Regions from separate parts of the Homo sapiens genome. Here regions 1, 2 and 3 are each reported to be linked to region 4. Evidence: microRNA targets listed by miRTarBase, many of them from high-throughput screens and not tested one by one. Region 4 holds a microRNA gene; each other region holds the end of a gene's coding sequence.
The links. Region 4 holds the annotated microRNA hsa-miR-4662b (AAAGAUGGACAAUUGGCUAAAU, at 1,448-1,469, shown strand). A microRNA usually pairs through its seed, bases 2 to 8, with sites in the 3' UTR of a target mRNA and lowers its output. Matches are read on the target gene's strand: a 7mer-m8 pairs with bases 2 to 8, a 7mer-A1 pairs with bases 2 to 7 and ends in A, and an 8mer does both.

Region 1: miRTarBase lists DOCK11 as a target of hsa-miR-4662b. The part of its 3' UTR that is shown has no 7-base or 8-base seed match.
Region 2: miRTarBase lists BCL3 as a target of hsa-miR-4662b. Seed matches in the 3' UTR shown: 7mer-m8 at 3,801-3,807.
Region 3: the mRNA of TACO1 is a reported target of hsa-miR-4662b. The part of its 3' UTR that is shown has no 7-base or 8-base seed match.

Annotation. Positions count from the first base shown.
Region 1 is chrX:118,685,351-118,689,505 of GRCh38, forward strand. DOCK11 (dedicator of cytokinesis 11) reads left to right here. Exons shown (of 53, transcript NM_144658.4): 53 at 338-797. The coding sequence ends at 457. Among named protein-coding and RNA genes, the nearest start is that of IL13RA1, 40 kb to the right of the region's middle.
Region 2 is chr19:44,759,370-44,763,524 of GRCh38, reverse strand. It overlaps BCL3 (BCL3 transcription coactivator), which reads right to left. Exons shown (of 9, transcript NM_005178.5): 9 at 3,481-4,097. The coding sequence ends at 3,910. Among named protein-coding and RNA genes, the nearest start is that of MIR8085, 2.8 kb to the right of the region's middle.
Region 3 is chr17:63,607,400-63,611,554 of GRCh38, forward strand. TACO1 (translational activator of cytochrome c oxidase I) reads left to right here. Exons shown (of 5, transcript NM_016360.4): 4 at 1-65; 5 at 403-966. The coding sequence ends at 603. It also overlaps the pseudogene FAM136DP. Among named protein-coding and RNA genes, the nearest start is that of TACO1, 8.6 kb to the left of the region's middle. RefSeq lists enhancers at 3,207-3,707, 3,708-4,155.
Region 4 is chr8:124,819,130-124,823,456 of GRCh38, reverse strand. MIR4662B (microRNA 4662b) reads left to right here and starts at 1,399; the gene lies at 1,399-1,479. It overlaps MIR4662A (microRNA 4662a), which reads right to left and starts at 1,472; the gene lies at 1,406-1,472.

The DNA of each region.
Region 1 (4,155 bases), not on the chromosome of region 4:
TGTCAGAGTCTACCATTTAGAGCTCTTGTTATGACCATCTGTTAAAAAATATTTTAAAGATTGTGTTACCTCTCGCTTTTTATTGAATTTTGCATTTTACAGTCTTTGTTTTTCTTAATGAGTAACTAGATCTTTTCTGCTTTTTTGATATGCTGCCTTTGTAATACAGCTTTGAAGACTTAAGTCGGTAATGTTATTCTTTGCTCTCTCTGCTTTCTGTCTTTTTAAATAACTGTCAGTGATAAATTGAAATATGCCTGCAATTTCATATACACATTCTTTTTTTGGCAGTGGCTATTTTGCTTCATGATAATCATGCTGATTTCTTCTGTTTTAGATATTACAAGAAGACACAATGCATTCTCCCTGGATGAGCAACACATTACATGTATTTTGTGCAATTAGTGGTACATCAAGTGACCGAGGTTATGGTTCCCCAAGATACGCTGAAGTGTGAGGAAATGCAGATGTACGTGACAATGAGACTGACCTTTCTCAGGAATATTTGGAGCTGTGCAAATGTTAAAATTTAAAGATTTGATATACATGGAGTGTTTCTTCTCGACACCAAAATTTTCATGTGTTCCAACAGGGTGCTTACATATTTGTAAATAAGCAACTTGAAAGTGCCTGGAAAATTGCACCACTGTGCTTGGTTTGTACTTTTTTAGGTAAATCTATATGCTGAAAAGTAGAGCTCAAAAACAGTAGTTCAATTTGCTTAATTATTGCTTAAAATAATGGTACTATGTAAAATTGTATAATGGAATACAATAAAAGGTAAAACTTATTTGTAATTAGAAGTGAAAGAAATAATACTTTGAACTTAGCATTTTTCTTGACAAGAAGCTCAATTCATTATCATACTAATCCTTGGTAGGAGGAGAAGAAAATTGATAACATTTCCGTAATACACGGATATTTAAAATTGGGGAGATCATTTGAATCCTTGCCAATTAGTAGTCAAGGCTGGGCTAAAGGAACCAAAAGCATTATTTCACAGAAAATTTCAAAAGGAAAGGATATATTTACAAATATACGAAGCTTAGGCTGGACACGGTGGCTCATGCCTGTAATCCCAACACTTTGGGAGGCTGAGGCAGGCGGATCATGAGGTCAGGAGTTCAAGACCAGCCTGACCAACATGGTGAAACCCCATCTCTACTAAAAATACAAAAATTAGCTGGTCATGGTGGTGCATGCCTGTAATCCCAGCTACTGAGGAGGTTGAGGCAGGAGAATCGCTTGAACCCAGGAGGTGGAGGTTGCAGTGAGCTGAGATCACGCCACTGCACTCCAGTCTGGGCGACAGTGAGACTCTGTATATATAACATATATATAATAGTAAGCTTGAGATACCATATATATATGTTATGATCTGATGACGCTAGGTAATCTAGTAGGTCTCCCTTCTACATACAAGACATCTAAGGGATTTATACAGGGCAAGCAGCATTTGTTGCCAAAGCTTTATCATCTGGGGCCATCTACAAAGATAAAACATTTCTGAGATTGCAGTCAGTACATCCCACAGAACTTCAAAGCTTTTACAGCAATCTGAGGTAGGAGTTTTGTAATGATTATTTTCTTCAGTTACAAGATTAATAAACATTTTGATTAGAACTTAATGGTTGCAGCATGTCTTGGGTCAATGTAGAAAACCACCACAGATTTGGCAAACTAGCTTGGGATTATATTTCTGTCTATGAAGAAATCTCAGATTGCCTAAATAATTCAGGAGAAACCAAGATGTGAATGACATTTTTTAGCTTGAATTATCCAAATCATTTTGGCTGCCTTCTATGGGAACTCGGGTTCTAGACTTCCTTTTTTTTTTTTTTTTGAGATGGAGTCTCGTTCTGTCGCCCAGGCTGGCGTACAATGGCGCGATCTTGGCTCACTGCAACCTCTGCCTCCCTGGTTCACGCCATTCTCCTGCCTCAGCCTCCCGAGTAGTTGAGACTACAGGCGCCTGCCACCACGCCCGGCTAATTTTTTGTATTTTTTTTTTAGTAGAGACGGGGTTTCACTGTGTTAGCCAGGATGGTCTCGATCTCCTGACATCGTGATCTGCCAAAAGTGCTGGGATTACAGGCATGAGCCACTTTGCCCAGCCTACACTTATTTTCCTTATGTGGTTTAGCCTCTTTTACAGATGAAAAAACAGTCACTAAAATATAAATGGATTGCACGGGGCCTTGGCTTTTTGAGCACTTTGTGATCAAGTAAATCCTAGAGATTATGCTCCTGGCCTGACCATTTTTATTTTTATTTTTTGGGGGGTACCATTTTTTCTTTTTTGAGACAAAGTCTTGCTCTGTCACCCAGGCTGGAGTGCAGTGGCGCCATCTTGGCTCACTGCAACCTCCATCTCCCGGGTTCAAATGATTCTCCTGCCTCAACCTCCTGAGTAGCTGGGATTACAGGCAGGTGCCACCACGCCCAGCTAATTTTTGTATTTTTAGTAGAGACGGGGTTTCACCATGCTGCTCAGGCTGGTCTCGAACTCCTGACCTTGTGATCCACCCGCCTCAGCCTCCCAAAGTACTGGGATTACAGGCGTGAGCCACCGCGTCCAGCCCATTTTTTCTTTATATGTCATTTTTAAGCTTTCAGGAGAGCATGAACTTATTTATTAAAAGTTAATTTTGTATTTTAATAGGGGACTTTTACAAGTATTTCCAAGGCAGTTTGTAATTCCTTAATATCTTAGAGTAACCTGTAGAGTTAGTTTCACCTTTAAAGTGATTATATTTGATATGTATGTGTGAGGAATCATCACCTCTAGTAAATGCTGCATTCTGAGAGTTTGGCATCTTGAGGAGACTCCAGCACTCTTCTGTCTGTAACTAGTCCCTGTCAAAGCCCCTAGCACAGCAATATGCACTGTGGGTAGATTTTTTAATGTAATAAATGGCCCCTATTGCCAAGGATCTCGCAGTCTAGTTGAGAAAGCAAGACGCACAAAATTAAATAGTACAAGAATTAACAATGTAAGACAGGAGAAGTCATATGTGAGTATTGCCAAATGAACGACAGCATTCATAACTCAAATCACATTCAAAGAAAGAGATCACTGTGAATTGTAAATGTTCAGGGAGGGTTTAGTGAAGAAAAGTTAAGCTTTGAACAGGCTTCCAAAAATGGAGAGGGGTATTCTAGGCAGGAGGAACACCATAAGCAAAGGTGCAAAAAGAATTTGTGGAGGTTCAGGGGATAGTAAGGAGACCAGTTTTGTCCAAGAGGTGGTAGATGATAAATCTAGAAAATACAGGCTGGGCGTGGTGGCTCATGCCTGTAATCCCAGCACTTTGGGAGGCTGAGACAGGCAGATCACTTGAGCCCAGGAGTTCAAGACCAGCTTGGCCAACATGGTAAAACACTGTCTCTAATAAAAATACAAAAAAAAGTTAGCCAGGCATGGTGGTACACACCTGTAATCCCAGCTACTTGGGAGGCTGAGGCACAAGAATCGCTTGAACCCGGGAGGTGGAGGTTGTAGTGAGCCTAGATCATGCCATTGCACTCCAGCCTGGGTGGCAGAGTGAGATTCTGTCAACAACAACAACAACAACAACAACAAAAAGAAAGAAAAAAGAAATAAAATACATTCGGACTGAGATTTTGGAAGGCGCTGAATACCAGGCTAATGGTATTTGGAGTTTACTCAATAGGCATGAGAGAGCTAGCCAAGGTTTTTAAACAGATTACTTAATTAAATGTTATTTTTAGAAATTTAATCTTTTATATTGCTGCCAGATGTATTTGAGGTAGAGAGACATGGAAATTAGGAAACCAGTTACATAGATATTGCAATAAACTAAATTCAATAAACCTCTAGATGTGAGTGATATGACAAGAATGGAGAAGAAAGGACGAGTCCCAGAGACATATATGGAAGGACTAGGTAAGACTCATTGGATGGCCAAGGGAAAAAAAAAAAGAAATGTGAAAGATAATTTTGTGTCCTGTGGCCAGGGAGTTTGCCATGTCATGGCACAAGCTCACTAGATTTATTTTTCCAACTCTCAGACTAAAGGTAGCAAGCTGTAGAGAACAAGGTGGGCTCGAACAGAGAAAGCTAGGTAAATCTGTTTTTTAAACACTACATGTATTAGGCATTAAAGTGTATATAGTTTAATGATTTCTTGAAGT
Region 2 (4,155 bases), not on the chromosome of region 4:
CACACCTGGCTAATTTTTGTATTTTTAGCAGAGACGGGATTTCACCATGTTGGCCAGGCTGGTCTCAAACTCCTGACCTCAAGTGATCTGCCCGCCTCGGCCTCCCAAAGTGCTGGGATTACAGGCATGAGCCATCGTGCCTGGCCAGCAACAGGACATTAACATGCCCTTCAAGCCTGGCAGCTTCAGAGATACCAGAGCACAGGGTCTGGGTCAGAAACACTGAAACATAGTTGCAAACAGAAAGACGCATGGACGTCCCAGTCAGGCGGGCCAGGCACACACAGGTCACCCAGTCAGTGCTCACACAGGCCATCCAGAAGTGCGTGTGCATGAGTGTTTGTGTGCACACACACAGCCCTTCACAGACCCCAGTGATGCCATCCAGGAAGTTGTTAAGGCAGCTGGCCCCACAGATGCAACTACATTACAGAGTGATGGGGATTAAATGTTCACTATCAGCAATTCACATGACGACCCAGAGAAGCCCCCACAGATTAAACAAACAAACAAACCAAAAAACCCCATAAAAAACAAAAAACACTCAGTGCTATGGTTTGAATATTTTTTCCTTCAAAACCTCATGTTGAAATCTGATCCCCTCACTTGAACCCAGGTCGAGGTTGCAGTGAGCTAGGATCTCCTGCTGCACCCCAGCCTGGGTGATAGAGTGAGACTCTGTGTCCAAAAAAATGAAGAAATTTGGGCCTGGCACGGTGGCTCACACCTGTAATCCCAGCACTTTGGGAGGCCGAGGCGGGTGGATCACTTGAGGTCAGGAGTTCAAGACCAGCCTGGCCAACAGGGTGAAACCCCGTCTCTACTAAAAATACAAAAATTAATTGGGCATGGTGGTGCATGCTTGTAATTCCAGCTACTTGGGAGGCTGAGGCTGGAGAATCGCTTGAACCTTGGAGGCAAAGGCTGCAGTGAGCCGAGATTGGGCCTCTGCACTGCAGCCTGGGCGACAGAGTGAGACTCTGTCTCAAAAAAAAAAAAAGAACTTTGATTCCCAAGGTTGGAGGTGGGCCTGATGTGAGGTGTGTTTGGGCCATGGGGGCAGGTCCCTCATGAATAGATTAATGTCCTCCCTGGCGGGTGAATGAGTTCTCCCCATTGACGCCCATGAGAGATGGGTGTTAAAGGGAGGCTGGCACTTCTCTCTCTCTGTCTCTCTCTCGCTTCCCCTCCTGCCACTTGATCCCCACACACGTGTGGTTCCCTCGGCCTTCTGCCATGAGTAGAAGCAGCCTGAAGCCTTCACCACAAGAAGCAGATGCTGACACCATGGTTCTTTTATTTATTTTTTTGAGGCAGGGCCTCACCTGTTGCCCAGGCTGGAGTGCTGTGGTGCGATCATAGCTCACTGCAGCCTCGAACTCACAGACTCAAGCAATCCTCCCACCTCAGTCTTCCGAGTAGCTGGGACTACAGGTGCCTGCCACCATGCCCAGCTAATTTTTTTTTTTTTTTTTTTTTTGTACAGACAGGGTCTCACTATACTGCTCGGGCTGGTCTCAAACTTCTGGTCTCAGGGGATTCTCCTGCCTCAGCCTCCCAAAGTGCTGGGATTACAGGTGTGAGCCACCAGGCTTGGCCTCAATTTTGGACTTCTTTTTTTTTTTTTTTTTTTTTGAGACGGAGTCTCACTCTGTCACCCAGGTTGGAGTGCAGTGGTGCGATCTCGGCTCTCTGCAAGCTCTGCCTCCCGGGTTCACACCATTCCCCTGCCTCAGCCTCCCGAGTAGCTGGGACTACAGGTGCCCGCCACCATGCCCAGCTAATTTTTTGTATTTTTAGTAGAGACTGGGTTTCACCGGGTTAGCCAGGATGGTCTCGATCTCCTGACCTCGTGATCCGCCTGCCTCGGCCTCCCAAAGTGCTGGGATTACAGGCGTGAGCCACCGCGCCCGGCCGATTTTGGACTTCTTATGCCCAGAACTGTAAGAGAATAAATTAGTATTGTTTGGCTGGCACGGTGGCTCACACCTTTTGTAATCCCAGCACTTTGGGAGGCTGAGGTGGGTGGATCACTTGAGGTCAGGAGTTCCAGATCAGTCTGGCCAACATGTCAAAACCCTGTGACTAGTAAAAATACAAAAAATTAACCGGGTGTGGTGGTGCACGCCTGTAGTCCCAGCTACTTGGGAGGCTGAGGTAGGAGAATGGCTTGAACCAGGGAAGTGGAGGTTGTAGTGAGCTGAGATTGTGCCACTGCACTCCAGCCTGGGTGACAGAGTGAAACTCTGTTTTAAAAAAAAAAAAAAAAAAGTTAGCATCATTTCAAGCCACTGAATTTGTGATTTGTTATAGTGGCAACAGGAAACCATTACAAACCCCGACTGACACACAGAGGCATACCCCAGAGTCAAAGCACAGATGTGTGGCTGGGCGCGGTGACTCACGCTTGTAATCCCAGCACTTTGGGAGGCCAAAGCAGGCAGATCGCCTGAGGTCAGGAGTTTGAGACCAGCCTGGCCAATGTGGCAAAACCCCCTCTCTACTAAAAATACAAAAATTAGCCAGGCATGGTGGTGGGTGCCTGTAATCCCAGCTACTCTGGAGGCTGGGGCAGGAGAATCTCTTGAACCCAGGAGGCGGAGGTTGCAGTGAGCCGAGATCACGCCATTGCACTCCAGCCTGGGTGACAGAGTGAGACTCCATCCCCCCCCAAAAAAACAACAACAAAACCACAGATGTGGTCCATTAGAGGGGCCCCATGGAACCACTAAGTAAAACTGTCTCACGCCATGTGAGGCAGTCACAGGGCAACAATCACAGCATCACCCCAGATCTCAATGTTAGGAACACTCCCAAGCACCACGCACTCGGACAGCCAGAGACGATTGGGGCTGAAGTCAGCTGTGGGTTATCACCAGGACCCCCACACTACAGAAACACACATGCCCAGGGTCACTACGGAATCCAACAGGGTGCCCTGGAAAGATATCACACACCGGCCAGGTGCAGTGGCTCATGCCTGTAATCCCAGCACTTTGGGAGGCCGACACAGGAGGATCATGAGGTCAGGAGTTCAAGACCAGCCTGACCAACATGGTGAAACCCCGTCTCTACTAAAATTACAAAAATTAGCCAGGTGTGGTGGTGCACACCTGTAATCCCAGCTACTCGGGAGGCTGAGGCAGGAGAATCGCTTGAACCGGGGAGGCGGAGGTTGCAGTGAGCCGAGATCGTGCCACTGCACTCCAGCTTGGGCGACAGAGCAAGACTCTGTCTTGAAAAAAAAAAAAAAAAGATATCACACACCACGTCCTCCTTAGAAACAATGGTACAGTGACAATGATGGCAACATTCACAACCAAACACACCAGAAGTCCCAGAGTGACACACAGGAGATTGTCTGTCTGAGACTCACAACATCACTCTGGGAGTCAACTGGATTCAGTGCACGGGTGTGCACACACACGAAGGCACTTCCGCCAGGTCCATCTCATGAAAGAGGCCCATGCACCCAAGGGATATGGTACAAAAATAGTTTATTACAAAAGAAATCCAACCAAAATGCTTAATAATTTACATCGTGATCCGTGCCCGTTACGGCCCACCTCTCCCCTCCTCAGTTATCTGGTAGAGAGTGGAGGGGAGTGGCTGTTCCCTGGGTCCACCAGCTCTGGGAGGGGACATGGAAATGGAAGATGTGGGTGGCATTCCGGACAGGGACTGGTGCCTGAGAATGCTGGGGTCAGAGTCCTGGGAGGGAGCGAGATGGGGGAACATCTGTGCTCAGAAGAGGGGGTGTATGGGTAGGTGCATGTGCTTCTGTGCAAATCCTGGTCCCGAAGATGGGGGGGGGGGGCAGAGTGAGATCTTCACAGTTTCCAGAAGGGTTGACCCCACAGGGCAGGGGGGCCCCTCCTCATGAGTCCAAGATCTGCCCCCCCATCCCCCTCAGCTGCCTCCTGGAGCTGGGGAGGGGGGCACCGGCCGGCCAGGGCCTCGGAGGACCCCAGCAAAGGGCAGGAAGGCGGGTGGAGATGGGGAAGGAAGGAAGAAATTGGGAGGAGCCATGGGGAATCCAGGGGGGTCCCTGGGGGGAGACTGGGAGGGTGAGGAGGATGGTGATGCGGAGAGAAGACCTGAGGAAGGAAGAGAGACAGAGGGGTGGGTGGTGAGAGGCTAGACCCAGAGAGCAGG
Region 3 (4,155 bases), not on the chromosome of region 4:
CAATCGAAGCAGGAGCTGAGGATGTCAAGGAAACTGAAGATGAAGAAGAAAGGAACGTTTTTAAAGTAAGCATGAAAACATGGGTGTTTGGTGGGCTTCCGGGAGGACCCTGATAGATGCCTTATGCATGCCTCTTGGTTTCTTCCTTCATGTGCCCCAGGGTATAGGTGAGACAGTTCACATATTGTACAAACATTTATTAAGTGAATACTGAATAGGACCGACTCTAGTGAGGACTATGAGAAAGAAAGAGTCAAAACATTGAAAACGATGTCCCTGCCAGTGAAGAGCTCAAACCCAGTGATCCATTCCAGTACTGACATTCAGGACTTTGCAAGGTCCTGTGTGGCTTTGTCTCATTACCTCCTGGCTCCTCACCTCCTGACTTTCCTTTATCCCTAGTTTATTTGTGATGCCTCTTCACTGCACCAAGTGAGGAAGAAGCTGGACTCCCTGGGCCTGTGTTCTGTGTCCTGTGCACTAGAGTTCATCCCCAACTCAAAGGTGCAGCTGGCTGAGCCCGACCTGGAACAGGCCGCACATCTCATTCAGGCTCTCAGCAACCACGAGGATGTGATTCACGTCTATGATAACATTGAATAACCAGGCTACATGTGCCCCCGGGTTCCTTCCTAGAAATGTGGCAGCCCATTCCAGCACACAGGCTTCTGCAGCAATCTCTGAGGGTAAAGCCGGTGGGAGGCTCAGCAGGCCAGGAGGCCCAAGGACAGGACTTGCGACCTTGAAGCCAAAGGAATCTCACTTGTGGGGCCTCCTTGTCAGCTCTGCTGCTGTCTCAGAGCCATCTGGATGAGTGTCCCGACACCCTCTCGGATGCAGGGCAGGACCACCCAGCTGGTCAGACTCTGATGTTGGGTAGCTGGCCTCTGTGGGGATTGTAAGTGCCCTGAGGCGCTCTGTACTAGAAACTGCTCTTAATAATAACGGTGATTATTGGTTGCTGCATTGCTGTTGTATGGCTCTTGAGTCTTCCTGAGTTTGTGTCCAGCTGTTGGGATCCTCTGGACTAACTTTCAAGTCCCTAGGCTTAGCTCTACTACTCCAATCCCAGGATTATTTTTTTAATTGGCCATAGAAATGTAGTTGTATCCAGGCACTCCATGGTCTGATGCTGGTCTTACAGCCTAAACCTGTCATTCATTCATGCAACTAATATTTCTGGAACACTAGCTATATACCAAGAACTGTACTTATCTAGAGCATAAGCTATTCAACTGGTGTCCTGTGTTAGATCCTGCTCTAGAAGGTAGGACCTGAACACAGGACTGCTCTTTACTGGAGCTGTCCCAGGGCAGTGTGAGCTGCTGTGCAAGCATCTGTTGCTCTCTTTGTGTGACTTCTGTGCCCTTCTTTCACCAAACAGCTTAAGGTTCTAGCCCAGTAGGAAATCAAGTGCCAGTGATAAGGGACTTGGCAGTGGCTCACACCTATAATCCCATCTACTCGAGAGGCTGAGGCGGGAGGATCACTTGAGCCCAGGAGTCTAAGGCTACAGTGAGCTATGATTGCACCATTGCATTCCAGCTTGGGTGACAGAGTGAGAACTCTTCTTTTTTTTTTTTTTTTTTTTTTTTTTGAGGCAGAGTCTCACTCTGTTGCCCAGGCTGGAGAGCAGTGGCACAATCTCAGCTCATTGCAGCCTTGACCTCCTGGACTCAAGCAGTCCTTCCACCTCAGCCTCCCAAGTAGCTAGAACTACAGGTGCATGCCACCACGCCCAGCTAATTTATATATATTTTTGTAGAGATGGGGTTTCACTATGTTGTCCAGGTTGGTGTCGAGCTCCTGAGCTCAAGTGGTCTGCACACTCGGCCTCCCAAAGTGCTGGGATTACAGGCATGAGCCACCACGCCCGGCTGAGTCTGTCTCTTTTTTTTTTGAGACAGAGTCTTGCTCTGTGGCCCAGGCTGGAGTGCAGTAGCATGATCTTGGCTCACTGCAACCTCCACCTCCCAGGTTCAAGTGATTCTCCTCCTTCAGCCTCCCAAGTAGCTGGGATTACAAGCAGGCACCACCATGCCCGGCTAATTTTTTTGTGGAGGGGGAGGGGAGAAAATTAAACTTTATTTATTTTTAAAAGCAAACCACCGGGAAAATATAACACAGCCTGGAAGCAGCAAATGGACAGGCTATATTATCATTTCAAGTAGTAAGTTGATGAAAATACAATGAGGTTGCTATCAAAACAATAACGTGCCATGCCGGGGCAGGAACACTGCAAGTTGCGAAAGCCCCAGGCAAAAATGGTTTTTGGTACTGGGGTCTGCCTCTCCTTTGCTATAAGGGAGTCAGCTCATCCTAGCCCAAGTTGCTTACTTTTTCTTCCTTGGATTTCCTGTTGCCAGGGTTTGTCTCAATTGTGCTTTGTTAATTCAGGGGGCTAAGTAGGCAGTGCTAGGTTTAGGCTTTCATTCCATCCGTTCTATAAAAACCAGGTTTTTCCAAATCCAGTACTTCATAACTCTGTTATAATCAAGTAGCCAACTGCTCTTCTTTTACTGTTCATTTCTAGATACTAGTATATATCACAATCAAAACCCCCTTCTCTTCACCGGGAAAGTGTTACTGCAAGATTGTCCTGTCATTTTGCTACACACAGCCTCGGCCCATCAGCCAGTAATTATGCTTCCCATAATTAGTATGTCATCACCTCTCATGTTTTTGCATGGTCTCCAGGCTGAAAGATGCAGCATGTAATAATTTTAAGAAATCTACATCTACATCTTGATGACCAGAAATGGGGATCCTCAAGGAAACTTTCAAAGTTCTTATCCAAACTAGTCTCCCTCCCAATTCCACATCTTAAAATCAATTTGTATCGCCTTGTATAAATTACACAAAACCAAGAAAACAAAGACCCAGAAAACTTTTTTGCCCTTCTAAGCGGGTGACCTCATGGATTTTGTTTCACAGCTTACGGAAAATGGTGTGGTGACACTTCTGGTAAACAGGATGTTGGCAACAAAGAGAAAATATCTCTCCTCAAACTCCACCAACTCTAACCTGCCAGCCTGTTGGTACCTGTGTAATAAGAAGAGTTTAGTGCCTTGGAGGGCTCTGGCTTGTTACAGGGGAGATCCTTACTGGCAGGACAAGCACTGGCCATAGGATATATAAGCTCTAAAACTCTCCTGTAATATCTCTGACCCAATTTAGCACCACTTTTTTCCATTTCATTTTTTAGGACTGAAACATAAAAGAACCAGTGTCCAGAGGCAAGTGACATATGTCTTACACTTGTGGCCATCCTTCATTTCTTCATAAACTTTGCTTAAAAGACTAAAATTCCCAATTCCTTATAAAAAATATATTCTTGCCCTCAGCCCCAGTGGCCACTGGCAAAGACTGTTATTTCCCAATGGATAAGAGAGCCTCCTTCATCTTCTTGGCCATAGTTGGGATGAGGTGCGTGTGGTCATCCACACACTTGGTCACACAACCGTCCAGCTGCTGCTTCACCTGAAGCTCCTTACTCCCAGTATCCATTGAATCTTTGGCTTTGTTGTTGCAATGCATGGCGCACCGGGCCAGGTGGTGCCGGAACTTCTCCAACTCACTGGTGAGCAAAGCCCGGGCTTGAGCCAGAGGCACATGGCAGTGCTTTGATGTACTGGTGCACCTACTGCATGGAGGCCTGGCTGTCCTCACAACAGCTGGTGCTGCACCGGAACATGAGACCCTGCATCTTCCAGATGTTCTCTCTCTCCAGACTCTTCACCATGGAGTCCACCACCTCCTGCACCCACAGCTGCTGCAGCTCTGCCATGGCGTCCCCATACCGCCCTGCACCGTGCCACCCCGGCTAATTTTTGTATCTTTAGTAGAGACCAGGTTTGGCCATGTTGGCCAGGCTGGTCTCGAACTCCTGACCTTAGGTGATCCGTCCATCTTGGCCTCCCAAAGTGCTGGGATTACAGGCATGAGCCATGGCGCCCAGCCTCTGTCTTTCAAAAAAAAAAAAAGGGACTTACTAGGGCCTGCTTTGCCTGGGTCCCTATGCATCCTGGGATTGGTCAGAGTGAACCAATGAGAAGACTGAGCTGCTCTCAAGAAGGGCTACCACAAGCTGGTTTTGAAAGCTTCTTGGTTCTGAGAACAACCAGCCCTAGATCCTTTTCATCTCTGATGCCAAAT
Region 4 (4,327 bases):
TGATTCTCCTAAAAACCACAAATGGATAGTTCTTCCAAAGACCCAGGGTCCTCATAGAACTCTCTAGAAACAGTAATGATCTCCTTGGAGCTCAAACAGTCCCTGAGCTATCAGACCCTGCCAACACCAGGGCTTAATGCTCAGGGAACACATTTTATGAGAGCAACTGTCACTCCTGAGCTTCTGTGGGTCACTTGAAATCACCCAGTTATTTTTCACTCAGCTGAGGGGCAGTATAGTTCTGACGGGTGGCTTTGGGTTCACTGCCTTCAACTCCAGTCAGAAAACGTTAGTGCTGAAATGGATCCGGGGTACAAATAGTTGGGTTGTTGACATGCTTTCTTCTGTTGTATACATAAAGGTTCCACATACAAAAACCTATTTGCAAAGAGAGGTCAGATGCTTAAATGTGAATAATAAAAATGCTTATCCATGGGTACTCTAGTTTAATCTCCTCATTACAAGAGGAATCTGAGGCCCAGAGAGAGAAAGTGACTTGTCCAAAATCATACAACTAATATTGCAGCCAGCAATAGAACAAAGAGAGCTCAGGAATTCTGGGTCCCAGTGACTATGGAAAACAATTGTCTGAAATTTTACCACTAGAAATTGCTACTCCCTGCCCCATACTACCTGAGTCTTATTTAGGTAAACAGATAGTAAATATAAACATTATCATTGTAAAAAAATGTTTTAAAGACCAAATATATTTATAAAGTTTTTTAAAGTGATCTTTTGTACCCCTTTGTACTCTACCCAATCCCATTCATTTCCCGAAGGATGTCCGATGTTAACAAATGAGTGTCAAGTCCTTCTAGGCCTTTTTCTATGCACTTAGGAATGTGTTTACAATATATGACTGGGTTTTAAAAATACATACTTATATACTATATGTATGTAGATATAAGTATAAATTTATAAGCCATATTTATATATTATGCCATTTATAAATATAAAATCAAATTGTTCTGTTTTGAGACTTCCTTTGTTCACCTAACCTTGTGTCTTGGCACTTTTTCTCTCTCTTTTTTTTTTCTTTTTGAGATTTTGCTCTTGTTGCCCAGGCTGGAGTGCAATGGCACAATCTCAGCTCACTGCAACCTCCACCTCCCAGATTCAAGCGATTCTCCTGCCTCAGACTCCTGAGTAGCTGGGATTACAGGTGCCTGCCTCCATGCCCACCTAATTTTTGTATTTTTAGTAGAGACAGGGTTTCGCCATGTTGGCCAGGCTAGTCTCAAACTCCTGACCTCAGGTGATATAACCATCTTGGCCTCCCAAAGTGCTGGGATTACAGGTGTGAGCCACCGTGCCCATCCATGGCACTCTTTCCATGTTGGTCAATAGAATCTTGATGTTTTGTCGATGGCTTCATGGTATTCCATTGTATGGATGTACCACAATTTCTATTTAGCCAATTGTCTATCTTTAGGCATTCAGAATAGCTAAAGATGGACAATTGGCTAAATAGACACTGTGGTACACAATGGCTTTTTCTGTTGCAGCCATGGTTGCAGTAAACTTCCTTGTATATAAATCTCTGGGACATGAGCCAATGTTTCTTCAGAAGAGATACCTAGAAGTGAAGATGTGAGATCATTTGTCTACAGAAGGTTTCACTTTAAGTTGTAATGACTCGCCTTAATGTTGTCCAAAGGTTGTTTTTCTAAACCTTATTTGAGGGCCCACAACAGCCATAAACTTTTACTTATGTTTCACCTAGAATCATCACAGCAATCCTGTGAAAGCAAAGTATGATCCCTATTTTTCAAAAAAACTCACTGAAGTAGGAACAGACGAAAAATATCTCAATTTGTGAAAAAGCATTTACAAAAAAAAAAAAACATCTAACATCATACTTAATGGTGCCAACTGAACGTCTTCCCACTGAGATTGGGAATAAGACAAAGATGTCTGCTTTCAACATCTTCTTCAACAGGGTAGTAGAAGTTCTAGCCAGTGCAATATAGCAAGAAAAAGAAATACAAGACATACAGATTGAAAAGAAAGAAATAAAATCATCTCTATTTGCAGATAACATGATTGTCTATTTATACAATCCTAAAGAATCTAAAAAACATAAACTAAAATAAACCTCCTAGAATTAATAAGTGAATTAAGTAAGGTCACAGAATACATGATCAACACTCAAAAATCAAATGCATTTGTTTATCCTGTCAATGAACATGGGGAAACTGAAATTAAAAACAATACCATTTACAATCACTTCAAAGAAAATAAAATACTTAGGTATAAATACATATACTATGTCTCTGATGAAAATTACAAAATGCTGATGAAAAAATAAAGACCTACATAAATGAGGAGAAATACCATGTTCATAGACTGGAAGACTCATCATAGTGGAGATGTCAATTCTTCCCAAATTATCAATAGTTTAACACAATTCTTATCAAAATCCCAAAAAGATTTTGTAGACAAAGCCAAGCTTATTCTAAAATTTGTATGGGAGGCAAAAATTTTGAAAATAAAATAGCTGTGATAACTATTTTAAAAAGTAGGAGGAAGCACTCTACCTTGTGTTAAGTCTCACTATATAGCTACAGTTGCCAAGGTAGTATGATATTGGTGGAGAGATAAACCCACAAATCAATGAAACAGAATAGAGGACTCAGAAATAGACCCACAAAAATATACTCAACTGATTTTTTACCAAAAATACCAAAAGTGCAAAAGCGAGTGAATGAAGGAAGGAAACTCTTTTCAACAAGTGGTGTTGGAGCAAAAAACAAAACAAAACAAAATCTCTTGTTTTAACTTAAGTCTCATACTTTAAAACTTTATACAAAAATTAACATAGATCACAGACTTAGATGTAAACATAAAACTTCAACACTTTTAGAGAAAAATATGGGAGAAAATCTTTAGCACTTAGAGCTAAGTTAAGGAGGTCTTAGACTTAAAATCAAAAGCACAATTTATAAAAGAAAAAATTGAGGCATCTTGATACTTCATCAAAATTAAAAATGTTTGCTCTGAAAAACACCCTATTAAGAGAATGAAAAGGCTGGGCACAGTGGCTCACACCTGTAATCCCAGCATTTTGGGAGGATCACGAGAGGTCGGGAGTTCGAGACCAGCCTGACCAACATGGAGAAACCCCGTCTCTACGAAAATACAAAAAATTAGACAGGCTTGGTGGCAGATGCCTGTAATCCCAGCTACTCGGGAGGCTGAGGCAGGAGAATTGCCTGAACCCAGGAGGTGGAGGTTGCGGTGAGCCAAGATGCGCCATTGCACTCTAGCCTGGGCAACAAGAGCGAAACTCCATCTCAAAAAAAAAAAAAAAAAAAAAACAGAATGAAAAAATAAACCAGAGACTGGGAGAAAATATTGGCAAACCACATATTCATCTAACAGACTTGTATCTAGACTATATAAAGAACTCTCAAAACATAACAGTAGAAGACAAAACAATCTAATTACAAAATGGGCCAAAAACCACAAATAAATGGCTCATAGAAGAAAATGTACAGATGGCAAATAAGCATATGAAAATATGTTCAACACCATTAGCCATTAGAAAAATTCAAATTAAAACTACAATGAGTTGTTATGGTGTAACTATTAGAATGGCTAAAATTAAAAAAAGCAATAACACCAAATGCTAGTGAGGATGTAAAGAAACTGGATCACTTACACACTGCTGATGGAAATGTCAAATGGTAGCATCACCCTGGAAAATAGCTTGCCAGTTTCTTATAAAACTAAGCATGCACTTACCATTTGCACATTTGTACATTTATCTCAGAGAAATGAAAACTTAAGTTCACACGAAAACCTGTACATGAGTGTTCATAGAAGCTTTATTGGAAATATCTAAAACCTAGAAACAACCCAAATGTCCTTCAATGGTTGAATGGTTAAACATCCATACCATGGAATACTATGCAGCAATAAACAGGAATAAACTCTTAATACAGCCAACATGGATGAATCTCAAGAGAATTACACTGGGTGAAAAAAGCCAATCTCAAAAGTTACATATTGTAACCTTTTGAATTTTTATAGTATTCTTGAAATGACAATATTATAGAGATAGAGAATAATTGATCAGTGGTTTCCAGGGCTAGGGATAAGGAAGGAGAGGAGATAAGTCTATAAGAGGTAGAATGAGGGAGGCTTGTTGTGATGAAACAGTTCTCTATCTTGATTACGGTAATGGTTACATGAATCACATACACGTGATAAAACTTCATATAACTATACACACAGATGGGCACACACACACATAGAATAAGTGCATGTAAAACCTGTGAAATCTGAATAAACTCTGTGGATTGCACCAATGTTAATTTTCTGGTTT